3 linked regions of the Homo sapiens genome follow. The protein of the gene in region 2 interacts with the protein of the main gene of each other region in a biochemical or structural test. Each region holds a gene or a part of one and is shown on either strand. Other genes may lie near its edges.

Region 1 (7,026 bases), on a different chromosome or scaffold from region 2:
ATTTAGTAAAGTAGTTAAAATACAAAAAATGGAAATCTGCCTTTTTTTTAAAGGATCTATCAAACTTCCCTCAATTGTAATCAATTTTTACTAAGTAGCACAAGGTTTAAAGAAATATATATTGAAAAGGATCAGGGTGGGACAGACACATTGGGAACCACAAAACCTCTTCCAAGAGTTAAAAATAAACACCTTTTTTTTTTCTTTTTAGCAAAAGTGAAAAATGTAAGCATATATTTTTCTAATTTATTTTTGAATTGGATAATAAGCTGTGAATCAGCACTAGGTTTTTTTTTATTGGATAATTATCCTTTAAAGAGTTGTTTAACAGTTTAGACTTTAAAAATGTGTTATGTAGGCTGACTTCTGAAAAGCAAAATAAAGTACCCTAATAAAGGCAGCAAAATGCATTAATCCACTATGAATGGAGTTTTACATTTTAATTTATGCCTAATATTTATAAAAGAATTTCATTCATAGGCTACTCACAGTTGTTATCTGATGCATACAGAAGTGTTAAACAACCAATTGCTAGTTCAGTAGTTTCCTCATGACATCTAATGTTAAGCAAAAATTAGTATGCATATTTCAACATCACCAGTAACCAATACTTTTCAAAATGAAAAAAGTTTCAATTATACCATGCTTTTTTTCAAATCATGCTCTTATTTATACAGATCTCAAGTTCATACTCATTAGTTTTAAAAAGATCCAAAACTGGATGGCAGGTACATTTTATTCTGATTCTTTCTTTATCGTTAGCACGCTTCCCAGAAGTCCATAAACTTCTCCATTTGCGCTGTGTGGGCGAGAAGCATTATTTCCCATATGGCTATTGTAAGGGCTTCTTAAATTAAAGAAAGAAGCTTTCGTTTCTGCAGTAGGAAGTAACTCTTCTTTGGCTGTGACCTGTGAGACACTTTCAGCAGATGAAGCCTCCCTCCAAATGTCCTTGTCTTGTGTTTCTCGACTGGTAACAGAATTGCCTCCTTTTTGAAGCATGTAATATAGTATTGGGTTGGTTTTGGTCAATCTTGGAGAGTCTTTTTCATACTCATTCTTCTCCGCATCAGTGATAACCCACTTAATGGGTCCTTTCTCACTGGGCATGGAACACCCATTCAAAAGCCCAGATTCTGGTCTAGACCCTGCACAGCCCAAGTGCTCAGGGAAAGTAGGACTCACAGGAGTTTTTACTACACCTGGGTATGAAAATGTCCTGTTATCCATGCAACTGCTGGGCTGAGTGGAACTGTACATCAGTCCATTTAAAGAAGAAATGCTAAATTCAGGTTTGCTGTTGGTCACATTATTTTTGTGTCCTTTCTTTTTACTGTCAGCCACAGAGTTACTTCTGTGCGGGGACAAATCTCGCACACAGTTTTCTGAGAGAAGCAGCTGTTTCAGAACATTAAAGCTTTTGCTCTCTCTGGCCCAACTCCTGTGTTCACTTTCGCTGGCTGAGCCATGACCAGCAGGATATTTAAATTCAAGATCATTTCTGCTAAATTTCAGCTCTTCCTGGTTAAGCAAGGACCCATACAGTACTTCTGGGGCACTGTGATTGTTTGCAGCATCAACAATGTTGTTTTTCATCTTTTTAAATGGATTTTCTAATGGCTCAGTATAAAGCTTCCTTTTCTTAGGGACCATGCAAAGATTCTTTGATTCTAGAAGTGCCATTTCATTATTTCTGTGACTCCTGTCTGAATCATCTGCCAGGTAACTATCTTGATTTTGTCTTAGCAATCGACTTAGCAGACCATTCTTGGAGAAAGAAAAATCCTGAGGTGAAACAGGCTCCGATTTAAAGTCTTCGGACACTGGTAAGGCAGGTGCGCTTCTCTGCACAGCAGGAGCCATACCCAAGAATGGGGCACTCTTAGCATCATGGCTCAAGTGCACATTTGTGTTAGGAATTTGTAAGTCATCACAAGGCTCAGATTTTATTTTCACCATCAGTATTTGTTCACTTAAAGCTCTCTCTGAGTGTTCCTGAGTACTTTCATCTCTTAAGGGAGTTTTCTCTTTTTTTTCACTCTTCCCTTTGTTGGGGTTCCCCAGGAGCAACTGGAGGACAGTACGTCTTTCAAGCAGATTTTCTATTTCAGAACCAGAAAGCCCTGGTTCAGGACCTGTTGGTTGACTACTAAATGCTTTATTTTCTTCAACTGCATTTGTTTTATTTGAGAGCAAAGGGCTATTTAATCTATCAATCATACCTATCGGTTTATCTGTGTTTCCAGTTAACAGCTGTTTGCTGGGTCTCTGCTCTTCCACTGACATGGATGACTGCATTCCACATTGTGCTAAATTTTGTAACAGCTTACTGGCACTAAACGTTGCAGAGTTCTGTGCACCTTCATTTTGGGCTGGTTTCTCTCCTGGTGGGTCTTTGCTTTTTGTAAGGTCCATTGAGTGGTTAGATGCAGTATTTGTTAGCTTTTCAGACTGAGTACTGCAGACATATGGTGGGGAATTCCATTTGATGACCAGAGAGTGTTGAGAGAGATTGATGGGAGACCCTGCTTTGCTTGATGTAAGTAAAGGTGGAGTGCTCACTGGAGTAGTCCGATTTGTACTGGGGCTTTCTATCACAGAAGTCCTTGCATAATTTTGTGTATTGAACTTGCTCACATCATTGTGTACTCCCTGAGGGCTGGTGTTTTTTTCTACATTTTCTTCATTCTTATGGCCAAGTAGCAATTGAAGAAGTGTTACTTTCTGGTGTGAGTTTAGCTTAGAATTCTTTGAGGTATCTTGATCTTCTTTGATATCTACATCTGGGACTTTTGGATCCCAAGTGTTTAGCAAGGATTGAGTGAAGTTATCCAGGGAAACAGGTTGGTCAGATTCTGATTTTTCAGTTCGGTGTTTGCAAGACAAGTCTATGGGAACACAGTTGGAATAAGAACTTTCATCACCACTGCTGTCATCTGTAAAACTAGGATTGTTATCTGAATATTCATCAATAGTTGTAGGTGTACTACTTTCCTCAAAAATGCTTCCTCTCTCACTGTGACTGTGTCCATTCATTGGCTTAGGTATAGTCTGGCTTTTAAGAAGATGTAAAAGCAAACTATTGTTAGCAGCTTGTTTTATATTGTTTCTTTCCAGTGAGTTCTTATAACCTGCATTTTTAGGGGAAGAAGGAATGATACCCATTGGATTTTGAAACACTGTAGCACTACTTTTGCTAGCCATCAGTTTGCTTGATGATGTTCTTGCCTGACCATTAAGATGGCTTGACATTCCTTTTGGGAGCTGGTAACTGCCAACATCCTTCTGGCCATTTTCTTGCAATCTGGCCATAGCAGCAAGTCTTTCACTTGCTGCTTGATTTGCATTTTGCGTTTTTAAAGCGTGTTCTCGAGAATACTGCTGCAAATGGGCTTCGCTTGACAGAAGTAATGCTAACTGGCTACAAGCAACACTAGGTTTAGGTGAGGTGGCAGGACTAGCCCTTTTTTCCACCATGCTTGCAACAGCCTGTAATCTTGCAGCACATGACAACGGTTCACTCATGACCTTTGTTCCACTTTGTCCAACATGATGAGGAGACTCTGCAAACCTATCTCTGATGAGGTTTTTAGTCACATCAGGAAGATTCGTATCAGGCTTTTGATCTTTAACTTTACTTTTCTTCAACAAAGTTTTTAAGTGACTTGATGCAACACCATAGCACCTTAAATCCTTCTCCACTTTTAAAGAATCATGACTGAGGGCATATCCTTGCTCCTTGAGGCTCTGCCTGATTTGTTGTGACAGAGCAACAGTCTGCAGCCTAGAGCTGAATGACTGAAGCAAAGAGGCCAGTAATGTGCTATCCTGTTTGCCTTTAGGCACACTGTCAACCATGCCAGCTAGCAAAGCTTCCTTCTTTACGTTTAAATTCATGATAGAATCAGACAGCCTCTTCCGCTTTGCTGCATTCCAGTCCTCAGAAGACTGCAACAGTCTGGCTTTTTTGAGGTGCAGCATGCCAGACCCCTGATATGTATGTGTATTGAGAACTGGACCATTACTTTGACAGGTGGGAAATGCACTGCCAGAAATGTTAAAGTTCTGATCCTCTTCATTATGCCCAGCAGACTTTTTGTCAACGGCAGTACCTGATCCCCCTGCTGCCTGATGCATTAGTAATCCTTCTAGGTAAGTTAAAACAATAGAATCCTGGTGCACATCAGAGCCAAGCTCTTCTCCATGAGTCATGTTCAATAGAAGTGTTCACAAGGGCTTGGTTTCTATTCACTTTAAAGAATGGTTTTCTGTGGTGAGTGCGATGTAACTTTAATAAAGGAGTATCAGTTTATCACCTTCCATCGCAATCAGAGAGAGACGTACTGTTACATTCTGTCCAAGATTTCTTCTGGCAATGACAAGATAAATGCAGTCTGACCACAGTGCTGATCAACTTCTACGCAAGGAGGAGGAGAAGAATTCCTTAACACATAGGTCTGTAGCAGTAAGCAGATAGAATCCTTAGTGAATATATTCCTTTTCCTTCTTCATCTTTTGTTCCCCATTAAATGCAAATATCAGTGTTCTAAAAAAAATAAAAATAAGAATAGTTAAGGAGGCAGAACTAGAATCACGTTATGATACCTACAAGCAAAATAATATAGCATCTGTAAATGTATATATATATTACATATAAATAATAGACATATAAATGGATTATAGTCACTTTAGTAATTTGTTTTATTGCCGTTCCTATTCAATTGAAAATGTCTACTGGAAATCCTGTGGGTTAATGCATACTGTTAAAATGATCAAATCATTAGAGAAGAGAACATACTTTAATGTTACATAGCCATCTTCCAAAGCCGCCAAGTCTCTGAATTTTCATAAGCACCTTTCTGCAAAGTAATGTGAATGTTCAGTCTCCTTTATAGCTTTATAGCTCTACAGGGGAACTAGAACTTGCTTCCTTACATTACTGGGCACTTAGGAAGAAACAAAAGTAGATGTGCAGAAAAAGGAAAAGAGATGCAGACTCTGATGAGTCTGATGTGGGGTTGAGGCCAACAGAACAGATTCATTTCTGACATCATCCCCCAAACACCAGACATTCCATAAGTAATTTTTAGAATTTCCGTTTTCAAAAAAATGAAACCACTAACAAGTTGAAGATTATTTTGTGAGTCTGTTCAAAGTGTGACCATCTTAATCATATTCATAAACATTAAAATACAGTCATAAACTTACCTACCCATACTTTTTACCATGACTTATTAAAGACAGAGAGGAGTGATTCTTTAGATGCTTGTTCAGGGCTATCAAGGGTTTAATGTAGTTCGTTAGTAAATCCTTACTCATGTGCTCTATGGAGAAGTCTTAATGTCAGGTCCATTCCTTACAGATACAGAAGACAGGGAGGGCATAAACATATATAAAAAGTACAATGGAGAATGCCAAAGACATTTTAGTCACAGTTTGAAAAATATTCCAATGATATTTATTATCTAAGAAGAGACCAAAAAATTTCCTATCACTAACACATACACAACAGAAGAAGCAAGAACTCATTGCATTTCTGAAAACTTGATAGGTAAGTGTCAAAATTGACCTAAGGAAGGGGGGCCATGACACCTTTGGAAGAGAAGCTGGAATAAATTCCATGCAGTTTGTTTTTCAAGATGCCAGAACATTTTGTTTAAGTTATCAGACCTGAAGCTATCAACAAATACCTTGGTCCCTATGGAATTTAAAAGATAAATTTTAATTGAAAGACTACCCTGTAGCTTTTTAAGTACAATGCTTAACTCTAAGTCAAACTTTAGGAAATAATTATCTGATTGTATCAAATTGTTGAATTTATTGATTAAAAGGATAAGAAATGATAGCCAAAGAAAAAGATACAGAAAGGAGGCAGCAACAATTAATTTCAACTGTGTAAGGAGTAGGATGAGAAGAGACTTTCTTGAGATTCCAATGCCACCATTTTAAGAAGCTTTGCCATAATGTACTTAAGATGGATATTTTAAGAGGTTAATAATGATATAGAAATGAAATGGTTATCATGACTGCCACCAAATATCCATTCTCCCATTTTCATTTACTAATAAAACCCTGACTTGTTTTTCAGGGAGTAGGGAGGTATCCCAGCTAAACACTACTTTTCTCCCCCCTCTGGTTATATTTTACAATTGATGGCATGTTGCTTAATTGGAGGCTTATTTTTCTTTCTTAGTGGTATAAAACATACGGGTACATTTTACAACTGATAACATCTTGGAGTTGAGGAAACCCAGTTTTCTAATTCTCTCAAAAAACTTAATATGGCCAGGTACGGTGGCTCACACCTGTAATCCCAGCAATTTAGGAGGCCGAGGTGGGTGGATCGCCTGAGGTCAGGAGTTTGAGACCAACCTGACCAAAATGGTGAAACCCCATCTCTAGTAAAAATACAAAAATTAGCCGGGTATGGTGGCATGCGCCTGTAGTCCCAGCTACTCAGGAGGCTGAGGCAGAAGAATTGCTTGAACCTGGTAGGCAGAGGTTGCAGTGAGCCGAGATCGTGCCACTGCACTCCAGCCTGGGTGACAGAATGACACTCTATCTCAAAACAAACAAAACAAAAATAACAACTGCTAATATACAATTAATTCTCAACTAGTTAAGACATTTAACAACCATTTAATGGGATATGCAAGTCCACTGTATTTCTCTCCACACCACTGCCAACCTTTTTGCTCTTGGGTAGACTCAAGAAAGTCAAAATCATACCAGTCATTTGAAAACTGGTTTGTAAACAGCCATAAAACATACTTTATTTAAGAATAAGAATGAAATAAGGAGCATCTTTGAGTTCATATTACTCCTGTTATTGCTTTCTACTTTTTACTGTGCATGATATAATTTGCAAAGTATTATTCATTGCTTTAAAAAGACTGAATTTACACATTTCTGAATTTACAAAGCAGATTTGGAAGTTGATTTAAAAAGGAATTATCACAGTTTCCTTGTAAAGGAGCTCTAACACTGTATTTTACCATTTATTTACCTCTCTACCATTTATTTCCT
Region 2 (7,026 bases):
TACTGAACAAAGAGAAGCACCTACTATGCGCCAGGTGCAAGGTAATCCTTCCAGTGGGGATACGACGTGGGCCTGTGGGGTGTGCCCGCCACAGCCCACTGGCCTGGAGGACCTCCTGCTGCCTGCTCAGGACCTGCTGGCATGGGCTGGGCCTGGGGAGGGTGCCACCTTCTCATTCACATAAAATGGCCTTGCAGGGGGTGGGGGCTCTGGAGACAAGAGCCTGGGTCTGGGGTGTGTGTGGGACGGGGCGGGACCCACCTTCCCGGCTGCTCTGGGTACTTGTGCTTGCAGTAGGCCTCCAAGGACGCATAGACCTTCTCCCTCAGCGCCTCCACCTCGGCCGGGTTCGAGAGCCCCTTGGAGTCTGAAAGGAAGAAGCCACAGGTCAGAACCCTCAGCTGGGGCGTGTCTCGGGCACCTGCCCCCAGGACCCAGGCTTGTGTGGGGTCTCCCAGGCTGCCCCACCATGGGCAGAGCAGGTGGTGGAGGAATGCCGCTGGACATGCCTCCGCCCGCTCCCCCAGAGCCTGGTGGCAGGGGGACGACTGTGGAACCCACGGCCAGGCCAGGCTGCTCTGGGTCCAGGCTCAGCTCTGCCACTTGCCAGCCACGTGACCTTGGGTCAACTATTTGACCTCCAGAGACTCGGTTTCCCCATCGATAAAGTGTCAGGGATCTGCTGCCTTCCTTCCAGCCGCCTTGGGAACTGGGAGAGACAATGGATGCTGCTGCTGCCCTTGGGTCCCAGCCCCATAACATGGATGGGAGATAGCGCTGCTGCCCCCAGGAGTACCCAGACCCTGCGGAAACCCATCCTCGGTGTGCTTGCGGAGTCCTGAGCTCAGGACCCGGGCTCAAGAGCCTAGAGTGGACAGAGAGGCTAAGATTGCAGCCACCAAAACCTCCAAGGCCCAGGGACCCCCTGTGAATGCCACCTTGGCCCCCAAGGCCCAGGGACCCCCTGTGAATGCCACCTTGGCCTGTGTCCTGGGCTCCTTGGCAACGTACCTGGCTCCCCCAGCTGCCTCCGCTCCAGCCAGTCTCCTCGCCCTCCCTGCATGCCTGTGCCCTGGTCTCTTCGCTTTCCCTGCAAGCCTGTGCCTGGACCCTGCTTGTGCCAGACAATCTCACCCTCCCTGCAAGCCGGTGCCCAGGTCCTGCTGGTGCCCCAGCTCTAGCAACCAGACCACACAGGACCTGAATGGGGATTCCTCGGGCCGGGCCGGGCCGTGGCATGACTCAGCCTCCGAGCTGGCAGGATTACGGCCCGGATGCACAGCCTGGGTGATAAAATGACCCTGGAAACAAGCTCTCCCCACAAGAAGATGCCCATCTCCATCCCGGCCCGGTCCCTCAGAGCCAGGTCTGACAAAGGGCAAGGTCAGAAGGTCAGGGCCAGGAGCCGAGAGGGCTCCACTCCCTCCACCATAGCCCAAGTGAGCTCCCCACAGCAGCCCCAAACCTCTCCCTCCACACCCCAGCCACCTGCCCCTATCACGCAATGAGCTGAGTTTCCAAACACAGAAACCCATAGCTCCCTCCCGGCTGGAACCCCTCAGGACTTGGCTCCCTGTGGCCCCAAGAAAAAACCCAAACTTAGCAAGACTTTCAAGGCCCTGCCTGGGCTGCCTCCACCAGCCCACCCCACCTCCGTGCCTCTCACTCCCCTGGCCCCTAACTTGCAGCTCCCGGAGGAAGTGGCCCGCACCCTCGACCAACCGTGCTCCTGCCCTCACGTGCCGGGGGTGCCTGCTGGTGGGCGTGACCCTCTAAACCCCAAGCTCTAGGCAGGCAAGCCCTATCCAGCAGCTTGAAGGGGCCCTCCCATGCCAGCAGGGCACCGAGCAAACAGGCACGTGTCAGCACTTGTTGGGCGAAGGAGTAGCACCTAGGAGGCTTTTCAAGCCGAGAACCCAGAGGCTGGAGAAGGGCCGCACTGTCGGCCAGGAGGCCTGTGCCCAGCCCCAGCCCCACAGCCCCAAGCCCTGCTCTCCTCAACCACAGGGGCCCAGCCCCAGAAACACCCTGGACCCGAGGCTTGGGGATGAGGTTGGTCCCCTCTGGAACACCCGGCAGGCCTGACCCATCCCCAGCCTGCAGGGCTTGGGACTCCTGAACTTCAGCACCGGAAGTTCACAACCACAGCTGGCCACTTTCGGAGTCTGGATTCCGACGCACAGTGATGAACACTATGAACCGCGGAGCCCAGACGGCACCACCAAGCCCCTCATGACAACTGCCTTGCTGGGTCCCCCTGTGCCCAGGGACCATGCCCCCTTGGCTGGCCCTCAAGGTGAGCAGAAGGCAGCATGGCCACACTTTCACTGGGAGGGGGGCACACTGAGCTCAAGGAGGGTGGGAGTTGGCCCCACATGTAGCCAGAGGCAAGAAGTACAGCCAGGAGGAGGCCCAGGCACCTCTGCCCCACCAGAGAACGGGGCCAGAAGCCTCAAGGCAGGAAGGCCATACCAGGGTTAAAGAGGACGATGGCGCGCAGGCAGCCCAGCTCCGTCTTGTCCATCTGCATGTCCCGCATCTTGGACACAAGCTCCGTCAGCACCCTGCAGAGGAGGAGGGCAGACACCCCATCCCAGTTAGGTCGCAGCCCTCACCAGGGCCACACCCCAGATACCCAAGGCCTCTGGAGAGCCCGGCGTGGCCCGAGGGCCGCTGAGATGGGCCAAGCCAAGGCAAGGACTCCCAGACACCCCGAGAGGGAGTGGGCTGGAACCCAGGCCCAGGTGCCGCCCCTGCCAGGCCTGCCTGGCCCTGCCCGGAGGGTGGGCTCCTCTCCTCTCCCTCTAGGGTCTGCCTGCGGGGCTTTATTCTGGGAACCGAGGTGCTAAGGAGGGGCCTCGTGACAGCTAAACTGAGGTGAGCCGCAGCTGCACAGAGGGCACAGAGTCCACCCCTCCCGAACCCAGTGAGACACACCACTGTCCCTCCTCAGCTGTGGACCCAGCACCACCTGAGGCAAAGCCCCTTCCCATGCCACAGCCCCAGCCGCTCCCTTCAGTCCAGGAAGATACCTTTCCCCAGGGCCTGGTGTCCCTGGGTGGGGGCTGCCAGAGGGAGGCATGTCTACTTCTTGTCACCAGAGAAAAAAAATCCACCAGCCTCAACACGGGGAAAGCCCGCCAGCTCCCTCCATGGAGACGCTGGGGGCGTTCTTGGATTCAGACTCAGCTGCCCCAGCCCTGCAGCTGGATTCTGAATCACACCAGCCTCTGCAGTGTACTGGGCCCCCTAGCCTCAGCAGCCTGCCCACCAACCCCAAAGCTCAACTGCTGTGTCCAGGAAGTAAGGGTGGGCCACAGCGGGGGAAAGGAGGTGACCAGGTGGGGATGGTTGCCTAAGGAGCCTGGGCTCTCCCCTGTGGGCCAAGGGCGGCCCTGAGGGTCTGCAGAATGGGGAGTGCCCTGGTTGATTCCTGGAAGAAGATCTGAAGGAGGCTGGAGAACAGGGTGGGACAGAACAGGAGCTGGGAGGGACCCCCGATGTCTGCTCTGAGGCAGGAGCACACAGCTGCAGAGGGATGGGGCAGCGGGCATGGAAAAGACCTGGGCCACTGAGGGCAGACTTTGCATTCCACTCGCAAAAAAGGCGAGGAAATGCCGGGGCCTCTGTAGTCACTGCTGTGGGACCCCAGAGAATGTAACCCTGAAACCTCTGTCATCGCCATCTCTCTACCAGCCAGACAAAGGATCTGTCAGCTGGGCAAGTGGCTGGGGCTTCGCTTCCCAAAGCCATATCCCCAGTACCCCTCTAAAGAAGCTTCTGTGGGCAATACACACTGCACACTGCACCCTGCAGCCCCCGTGGGGACCCTCCTGTACACTAACTTCTTAAAGGCCCTGACAAGTCCTGCGGCAAAGACCCTCAAGGACACTGTTTGAACTACCGTTTGCCCACCGTCTGCGGCCACAAACCCTTTTGCACTTGGCACATCCCATGGAGGTCAAGTTCCAGGATCACCCTTGGGACTCTGGGACCTGAACCACCCCCTGGGGCATTGCTGCTGGGGCATTAATCCCCCTGTAAGTGCCGGTGCATGGCCTCTACTCACCTCTAACGTTGGGGCTCTCGTGTTCAGGGGCCACGTTCTCCAGGTGGCCTGCTCCTCCCCACCCACGGCTCCTGTGTTGCAGACCCCTGCCCAAGGGACCCCGCAGTGCCCCTCCCCAGCCTTCCCGCTCCAGCTGAAGCTGACATCCGGTCCCCAGAAGGCCCAGTCTGGTGTGTGTGGCTCTCTAGACTCGTGGAGAAAGACTGTGCAGAGAGGCCGGGCGCGGCGGCTCACGCCTGTAATCCCAGCACTTTGGGAGGCCGAGGTGGGCGGATCACGAGGTCAGGAGATCGAGACCATCCTGGCTAACACGGTGAAACCCCGTCTCTACTAAAAATACAAAAAAAATAGCCGGGCGTGGTGGCGGGCGCCTGTAGTTCCAGCTACTCGGGAGGCTGAGGCAGGAGAATGGTGTGAACCCGGGAGGCGGAGCTTGCAGTGAGCCAAGATTGCACCACTGCAATCTAGCCTGGGCGACAGAGCGAGACTCCATCTCAAAAAAAAAAAGGCTGTGCAGAGACAGGGACAAGGAAGCTACTGTCCGCCTCGCCTGGCAGAGCGGAGTTGGCCAGCACTCCAGGAGGGCAACATGAACGGACACGGACCACCCAGGCCCGGACGAGGGTGGGCCCTCCAGCCAGTGCTGCTCCTCCAGTGTGTCCCCTGAGAAGTGGCTGAGGTGCAGCCCTTTGCTCCACTGGGAGGTGTGAAGCACTGCGGTCCCGACACCCCTGCCTGCACGGGGACAGGCGTTAGGCCGCACCACGCCCCGGGCTGCCACGGCATTACCGTGCCAGCCTCAAGCAGCCTGCGACATGCCAACTGGAATTGACACTTTTACAAAACTGCATCTACGGTATAATCACTTTAAAAAGAAACGAAGCTTTCCTTCCCACGGATAAATACATGGGATCGTGAAAAAAGAAGAGATGGAGGGAGATAGGCCAAGTGCTCCCTGTGGTTACAGATGCCCCAGAGGCAGGGCTGGCACAGGGCTCTGAGCCTCCTCCTCATGCTTTTCTCTTTTTCCATGTGTGCACCCTTCATGCACTGAAATAATACTAGGCAGGATGTGCACCGGGGCCAAGGTGGCTGAACTCAGCTGGCCTGGTGGCGGAGGTGACCGAAGCGCCCTCGCCCCTCCCGGGACCACCCCCACCTGTCAAAGATGGCGCCCACCCCTGCGCTGTGGGCGCTGTTCCGGTGGACGTGCAGCCCGGTGGCCAGGAGGATCCCGTCCTTCACGGCGATGGAGCGGTGGGAGAAGGAGGCGATGAGCAGCTCATTCCAGCCTGGGGAGGAGGCACACAGTCACTCAGCTGTCTCCAGGCCCCACGGGGCTCGCCCCTTCCCCAGCCCCTGGTGGGACCCTACAGAGGCAGCATGTCACCGACCCATCCTGACAGGCTCTGGAACCCCAATCCCATGAAGTGTTCCACAGAAAAGAGGTTCCTGAGAATGCCCGTTCTACAGTACACACCGGCACACGAAAGGCCCTGAGAAGTCCCACACAAAGTCCCTTGAGCTTTGTGGAACCCGGGAGCTCACAAACTCATGTGCCCCAGAAGCTTCCTCCCGCGTGTGCAGGACACTCCTGCCACGGAGCACGTGGGAGAGCACCCAGGGATGTTCCCAGGATGGCCCCAGAACCACTGCTGCCAGCAGGGTCCCAGGACTCTCGGGGATCTGTGTGCCCTTCGTGGAATGCCACCAAACAGCAGGTTATCCAACTGAAGGCAGGTGCGTGAGAGCCGCAGCCTCTTTCGGGGGGATTCCCAGGGGGGAAGGTTAGGTAACAGCAGCCCCTCAACATAGTGGGGGTTCCCTGGGGCGGGTGGTTAGGTAACAGCAGCCCCTCAACATAGTGGGGGTTCCCTGGGGCGGGTGGTTAGGTAACAGCAGCCCCTCAACATCGGGGGGTTCCCTGGGGGGTGGGTGGTTAGGTAACAGCAGCCCCTCAACATAGTGGGGGTTCCCTGGGGCGGGTGGTTAGGTAACAGCAGCCTCTCAACATAGTGGGGGTTCCCTGGGGGGCAGACAGTTAGGTAACAGCAGCCCCTCAACATCAGGGGGTTCCCTGGGGGACAGTTAGGTAACAGCAGCCCCTCAACATAGTGGGGGTTCCCTGGGGGTCAGGTGGTTAGGTAACAGCAGCCCCTCAACACAGTGGGGGTTCCCTGGGGCGGGTGGTTAGGTAACAGCAGCCTCTCAACATAGTGGGGGTTCCCTGGGGGGCAGACAGTTAGGTAACAGCAGCCCCTCAACATGAGGTTCCAGTGCAGATGAAGCAGAGCAGGCATCGGGGAGGAAGAAACAGGGACCCTCGCGTGCACACGCACTGCTGTTTTAAGGGCTCCTGGAGACCGGGTGACGTGGAATCACCTGCAGTCACACAGTCAGGGACCCTCGCGCACACACGCACTGCTGTTTTAACAGCTCTTATAGACAGGGTGACATGGAGTCACCTGCAGTCACACAGTCACCTTCAGCACCTTCCACACTCCCTGAGCGCTCTAGAGGCTCCAGCCTCTATGGCCGACACTGTCATTAATTTCCCACTTAATCCCAACTGTAATCCTGGAAAACTGGCATTAACTTTGTTTTACAGAGGGGGAAACTGAGGCATGAGGGGGTAAGTGATCAGCAAGAAGTTGGTGGGGACCACCGTGCCAGCTCCGGCTCGGCCCTCCACACCCTCCCAGCACATACCCACCCTGTCATGGGGAACCCGGGGGCAGGTGTCACCGTCCCCATTCTCCCCATTTCACAACTGAGTAATCCCAGGGCCCCAGGAGGGAGTTCCCACCCCCGAGGCCGCCCCGCCCAGGTGTGCTGACAGACCAGGCAGGGATGGCACCCAACTGGCCCCAGGCTGTGCAACCAAAATGAGGGAGGAACGGTGGGGTCTGTGCCCCATCACCGTGGGAGCATGCAGACGGCACCACGGGCGGTCTGAT
Region 3 (7,026 bases), on a different chromosome or scaffold from region 2:
ATAAGTAAAACCTTCATGGAGAAAAATCTGTGATCTGACTGACTAGCATTATTCTCACTCAGAAACATGACACCAGTATGTGAATTACAACAGTAAATTCACATTCAAGATGAATATGCAATAAACATTTATAAAAAGACATCAACTATTAATTTACATAGGGCTATAAAATACTTTTAAAAATATGTACATGGTTATTCAAAAGGAGGAGCTCAATTTCAGTAAGAAATTATATGGTTGAACGCATGGTCACCATTTTTTTTTTTTTTTGAGACAGAGTTTTGCTCTTGTTGCCCAGGCTGGAGTGCAATGGTGCAATCTCGACTCACTGCAACCTCCACCTCCTGGGTTCAAGCTATTCTCCTGCCTCAGCATCCCAAAGTAGCTGAGATTACAGGCACCCGCCACCACACCCAGCTAATTTTTTTGTATATTCTGTTGAGGTGGGGTTTCACCATGTTGGCCAGGCTGGTCTTGAGCTCCTGACTTCAGGTGATCCACCCACCTCGGCCTCCCAAAGTGCTGGGATTACAGGTGTGAGCCACCGCGCCCGGCCATTCCCCATAATTTTTCTTTTTGTGACAGAGTCTTGCTCTGACACCCAGGCTGGACTACAGTGGTGCGATCTCAGCTCACTGCAACCTCTGCCTCCTGGGTTCAAGCCGATTCTCCTGCCTCAGCCTCCCGAGTAGCTAGGATTACAGGCATGGGCCACCACACCCTGGTGATTTTGGTATTTTTAGTAGAGATGGGGTTTCACCATGTTGGTCAGGCTGGTCTCAAACTCCTGACCTCAGGTATCTACCCACCTCGGCCTCCCAAAGTGCTGGGATTACAGGCGTGAGCCACTGCGCCCGACCCATTCACCATAATTTTAATGGCCAATCAGATCACTCAATTTCTCTCATTCACAACAAATACATATAAAATGAATGTATCTTCAATTTAAACCTAAAACCTGTTGTTCATATGCAGCAATTTACTTTGGGGATTCACATTAATTTGGACCAGAGCTCAGCAAAAGGAGTTCCTCTTCTCACTCTCTCTCCTTGGAACTCAAACGTAAGGAAGTGTCTAAGCACAGTAACAGCATAGCATATTGAAATGCAGTTTCATAAATGCAACAATCAGCTGTATACTCCCCCTTTTTTTGACTATGGAGGTAACCTTTTTGAAAGCATTCCTAAGCAAGTTATACTACATCTACACTACTATGTGGTAGTAAAATATAGCAGTAGTAAAGCCAGTTCTTTAGCTTAGAAAAGAAACTAAAACTACATTTTCCTTTTTAGTACCTTCCACTTTCCTACCCTTCCATTCAGAAAAGACAAGCAGGGCATGTTAATTCAAAAGACAAAATGATTACAATGCCAGATACCGATCTAAAATGTATTCTGCGTTGAATATGGTCTACATCCATCCATTTATACTTTTGCCATGGCCATATATATCACTGGTCAAGTACTTGGGCTTCCTTACACAGGAAAAGTCAGTTGCTTGGCACCTAGAAAAGCTGTCAGTGAGGTGGAACTGAGTAAATCCTAGCTCCTACGTGGTCTGCTCATCCATAAGCCCTAGCCAGAAGTGTGATAAACATTCAGCAATGGGGCCCTACTGGGCTCCTGATCCCAAATCCAGAGGGAAATCTCCCAGAGTTTATGGTCAAAGATGTACACCGGAGTGTACAAGTTTAGGTCAAGGTTACCTGAATCGCACTGAACTTTTGGGGGAATGCTTGATAAGTGAGTGTGGGTTATAGTTAGGCTCATTTTATGGTTTATTTCTATTTGAACAGAATTTAAGGATGACTTAGCTGAGATCCACCTGGGCACACAGGTACTTATTAATAAAGTCAAAGGATATTAATCTAAAGACCATTACACAAAGGCTATTTACAGAGAGAAACCCAAGACCTTTACTTTTTGTTTTTGAGACTGAGTCTCTGTCACTCAGGCTGGAGTGCAATGGTGAGATCTTGGCTCACTGCAACTTCTGCCTCCTGCGTTCAAGTGATTCTCCTGTCTCAGCCTCCTGAGTAGTTGGGATTACAGTTGCACGCCACCATGTCCGGCTAATTTTTGTATTTTTTGTAGAGGCGGGGTTTCACAATGTTGGCCAGGCTGATCTCGAACTCTTGACTTTGTGATCCGCCCACCTTGGCCTCCCAAAGTGCTGGTGGGATTGCAGGTGTGAGCCACTGCGCCCAGCCCCGATCTTTACTTTTAATATAATTATATTATGTATGACCAAAAGATGGTTCTCAACTGCCTTTCATTCAGCCAAAGATGGTTAGGGTGAAACAAATACTGTTTTGAAAGATAAATATGGCACTGAATGTAATAGTGACAGTTTGGGGTTCATTAGTCACATTTAGGAAATTATAGTTTTAGTCTCACAAGTTCTAACTCCCTTTTGTGATGATTCTCAAAATAATTTATCTGTTTTGCTCTGTTTTAACTTGGGAGACAAGTATGGAAGAATAAACTGTCAGACGAACAGTATTCTAAGATACCAACAATAAAATTATCAGCAAAAGCTCCACAGCTGCTGTGCTAAAAATAAAATGCTGGAGCAAAAAAAGACAAAAGGTGTATGCACTGTTATCAAAATCTGTTCAAACACTCTTTGGAGAACAAATGTCAAATGCAACTTTAAAACAACAATGACAAACATTACCATGTAACACATATTTGAAAAGTGAGTAGGACTTTTTAACAATACATAATTGACATATTATGAACAAGACCTATATATATAAACAATGGGGATCTATTGCTAACAAGTTATTTTCTCCCTGTATTTTATCTTTAGCAGTACCTGAAAACCCAATGAATTAGCCACAGGATATTTTCCACTTTAAGAAGTAAAGCCATGTAGATAAAACCAAGTCTTCTATGTTAAATTTATGGCAGGTGATATAATGCAAATAATAGCCTTCTTTCAAGTGAGCTCTTTTTATTCTATCATCCTAAGGAGAAAAATTTACTCCAGTTAATGTTTTATAAATACAGATTAACTTCGGCAAACCATTTAGATATTGTGTCAAATGCTGGATTAATGTATGGCACAGCAATTTTCTTCTATCTATCTATCTATCTATATCAGCTGAACCGGGTAGGTCTGGCACATTAAGAATATGCTTGTCCTCAGAAGATAAGTCTTTTGTACCTCTATCAATCAATCAGAAGAATAAAATCAGAAGTCAGATCAAAGATTAAGTTTGATGTTCTGACTCTCAAAAGAAAAACATGAGATAGATGCTTCAGGAAAAAAAAAAAATCACTATTAATTCCCCCCAGCTGCCTGCTCCCAAAATCCTACAACACATTTTCATTCCAAATTATAGACAGATGAAAACCACAAAAACGAGTCCCTTTCAGAGGAACTTATATTTAATGCCCAGTAGGGTATATGATGAAGAACCCTCACATCAAATACAGTGCACGCTGCTGTATTTATATTTTGGGTAGTTCCACTAAAAGCTATACTGCAAACAATGAGGCTTGTTGTAAAAGGATCACCTGTACAATTAAACCTCACATAGACACACAGCAAACCCAAATGTATATACTTCCCTCAGTGGAAGAAGTTGAAAATCTAGATCTAGAAATGTATAAAAAATGGCCTTGAAAACCTGCTATACCAAAATACCTCTACAGACAAGATAAAAACAAAAACAAAAATCAAACATTTGTTTTCCGGATTTTTCTTTAATACAGTTGCCATCTTACATGATGTACTATTAAGTGCCTTCTTAATAGCATCTAACCTACCCTTCTGTTGCACCGTTTGGCCTCCTGGGATGGAACTCTTGTTACCACCCATGTTTGTGGAGTACTGTTCTTCAGTACAGTACACCTAATTCATATTGTCAGGCCATATAATTCACGGGTAGTGGTATTAATTTCTAAAGCTGAATTAAAGCACACATCCAAACCACATATATTTTTTACTTTTCAACTTAAAGAGTTCATACAAAGTCTATTTCCTTTCTACAGTAGCTATCACTCCAGACTGTGGTTTAAAAATCCAAGAAGTGGGAAGAATGTCTTTGTTTTCAATGCTTCTTTCTTCCATCCTTTTTCTATCCTCCTTTTTTCCTTCTTTCCATTTTCTTTCTTCTATTCATCTCCTTCTTTCCTTTCTTTCTTAGTGATAAGAGGTTAACAGAAATGGGCTATTAAGGAAATCAAAGTCTAGTAAACGTCCAAAACAGAGATGAGAATAGTCACAAACTCTTCTTTTTGTAGTGATGTTAAATTACTGACAAATGTTTTTTTGAAAACAAAAAAATCTAAAAACCAGCACAAGCTAGTGGTGCTGCATATTATTTAAGCAACTGGCGTTCTTCAATGCTTTTGAGGCGTTTCTTCCGGGGCTGTACAAAGTCATCATCTGAATCATCACTAAATTTATTATCTTCTGATTCATTCCTGAATTCTGGTTTGGGAAACCTTTTTTCTGGATAGAGGTTCTTTAGAAGTTCTTCAAAATAATTTTCAAGTTTTATACCAGCATTGGCTACTTCTGAATCAGGCTGTGGAGTAAAAATAAAAATGAGTAAAAAAAGGACACACTTTTGACTTCTGAGATTATATATATTAATGAGCTGTTTTGAAAAGTGTTCATGCATAGTCATTGAAATAATAGTTTAGGACTAGACAAAGTCTCTGTACAGAAGGCCAGCTAAAATAAAAGATTCAGAAGTGTGGAAAAAAGATAAAAGTAAAAGCCTGGATTATTCTAAAAGAAGGTGGTAATGGTAGGACTATATTGCCAAACACATATCAGTTAGGATTCCATAACCATAGGATCATGAACCAGGTATTTTTAGAACAAATTAAATGTAGTACTATTAGAATGAGTAACAGAGAACAAACCACCAGCAGCAAAAGGTTCTAAGTCTGACTGATGTGTAGATGAACTGACAGATGAGAAATTTTTAAATTAGAGCTATTTGGCCCACATCCTTAATATTTCAAGATCAACATAAAAATAAGAAATACAGGTGGGAATGATAAAGAATATGTCTAGGTCAGAGAAAAACATTTTGTCTTTCAGTTATCAGCTGTAATTTGCATTTCCATCACCATCTAATAAACCTTTGAATATAAATGTGGACAGAGTTATCTGAATTATCTCTTGCATTCCCTGATCTGAAAAGTTGGAAATTTATTCTAACTCAGACATCTTGGTCTCCTATGTTGACAAGGTGTTTAGTAATAAAATGATTTTCACACTGCTGTTCCTTCCTGCCCCCTTCCCTCCCCTAGCCTCACCTCATTGAATTCAGCACAGTTTTGAAAGATCAATCTAAAATCAGCTACAAAATCTTCAGGTTTTGAGTACATGGAATAATCTTCTTGTAGTCTTTTCTTGATGGTTGACAAATCCATTGGATTTTTAATTATTTTGTAATAATCAGGCACCTATTAAAAAAATGAGATGTTATAATACAAATAGCTAAATTCCACCTTGTCCTAAATATATTCTATGAGATGTGCTCTAAAATTCAGAATGTTCTCATTGCTTTTCTCTGTGCTATTTGCCATTAGTAAAGAAACCCATTTAACAGTGTTTACAAGTGCCCACTGCCTTCCACACACACTGGTAAAGGTTTGTGTGACTTTTTCCAAAAGTTTAACCAATTATTATTTTTGAGACAGGGTCTTGCTCTGTCACCCAGGCTGGAGTGCAGTGACACAATCTCGGCTCACTGCAAACTTTGCCTCCTGGGCTTAAGTGATCCTCTCACCTCAGCCTCTCGCGTAGCTGGGGTTACAGGCATGCGCTAACATAGCCGGCTAATTTTTGTATTTTTTGTAGAGATGGGGTTTTGCCATGTTGCCCAGGCTGGTCTCAAACTCCTGGGTTCAAGCAATCTGCCTGCCTCAGCCTCCCAAAATGTTGGGATTACAGGCGTGAGCCACTGCACCCAGCCCCAATTATTTTTAATGAAAAAACTTGTCTTCACATATTTCCTCTTAATCATCTAGATTTTTTTCTTCATTATTAAACAAAAAGCAATTACTAGGAAGAATATCATTTCTAGTAGAATCTGACATGTTTTTGCTGCATGTATTATACAAGAGGAAGAAGGACTTTGAATCTGGGTTTAATCCCCAGCTCTGCTGCTCAGTGTCATGGTCCTGGGTAAGCTACTTAACCTCAGTTTCTTCATATTTCAAATAGGGATAATCCTGCCAAACTCACAGCATTTTGTACAGACTAAATGAGATGATATTTATTAAGAAAAAGGGGGCTACTTTGTCATTGTTGGTATTAATAACGTAACTGTAAGCCAGGATAATAAAAAGTACAATTCAAGGTTACATTTTCAAGTTGGTAATGTTGTTACAAGCCTCTCGACTTCTTTACCCTGCCTCTTTTGGGTACAAAAGACCCTTCTCCCTGGAGGTATTTATTTCCTATATCAAGTTCTCAAAACCTGTTCTTAAGAGAGAAGCTGACTGTATTTACTAAGCTGATTTTCTTCTCAACTTTGTATTAATTTGAGATTTATCAAACTGTAGAACAAATGAAAAAAAATTTTTTTTTTGGGACAGAGTTTTGCTCTTGTTGCCCAGGCTGGAGAGCAATGGCGCAATCTCGGCTCACTGCAACCTCCGCCTCCGGGGTTCAGACATTAGAAGAATACTCTTTTGGGGTACCAGGCCCTTTCCAGCACTCTAAAATTATGCGTTAAAGTCACATCAAACTTTTTTTTTTTTTTTTTTGAGACGGAGTCTTGCTCTTTTGCCCAGGCTGGAGTGCAGTGGCATGATCTCGGCTCACTGCAAGCTCCGCCTCCCAGGTTCACGCCACTCTCCTGCCTCAGCCTCCCGAGTAGCTGGGACTACAGGCGCCTGCCACCACACCTGGCTAATTTTTTGTATTTTTAGTAGAGACGGGGTTTCACCGTGTTAGCCAGGATGGTCTCTATCTCCTGACCTCGTGATCCGCCCGCCTCGGCCTCCCAAAGTGCTGGGATTATAGGCGTGAGCCACCGCGCCCGGCCACAGTCAC

Evidence for each region.
Region 1: the proteins of RXRA (region 2) and NRIP1 form a complex in vitro, tested with the Homo sapiens proteins (2 studies listed by BioGRID).
Region 3: the proteins of RXRA (region 2) and TRIM24 form a complex in vitro, tested with the Homo sapiens proteins (3 studies listed by BioGRID).

Annotation. Positions count from the first base shown.
Region 1 is NC_000021.9:14,963,981-14,971,006, forward strand, and holds part of NRIP1 (nuclear receptor-interacting protein 1), read right to left. Parts: intron 4,547-7,026; 5' UTR 4,213-4,546; coding exon 736-4,212; 3' UTR 1-735. UniProt on the Homo sapiens protein: Modulates transcriptional activation by steroid receptors such as NR3C1, NR3C2 and ESR1. Also modulates transcriptional repression by nuclear hormone receptors.
Region 2 is NC_000009.12:134,427,443-134,434,468, reverse strand, and holds part of RXRA (retinoic acid receptor RXR-alpha), read right to left. Parts: intron 5,362-7,026; coding exon 5,229-5,361; intron 2,565-5,228; coding exon 2,473-2,564; intron 368-2,472; coding exon 262-367; intron 1-261. UniProt on the Homo sapiens protein: Receptor for retinoic acid that acts as a transcription factor.
Region 3 is NC_000007.14:138,582,253-138,589,278, reverse strand, and holds part of TRIM24 (transcription intermediary factor 1-alpha), read right to left. Parts: intron 5,430-7,026; coding exon 5,280-5,429; intron 4,538-5,279; coding exon 4,328-4,537; 3' UTR 1-4,327. UniProt on the Homo sapiens protein: Transcriptional coactivator that interacts with numerous nuclear receptors and coactivators and modulates the transcription of target genes.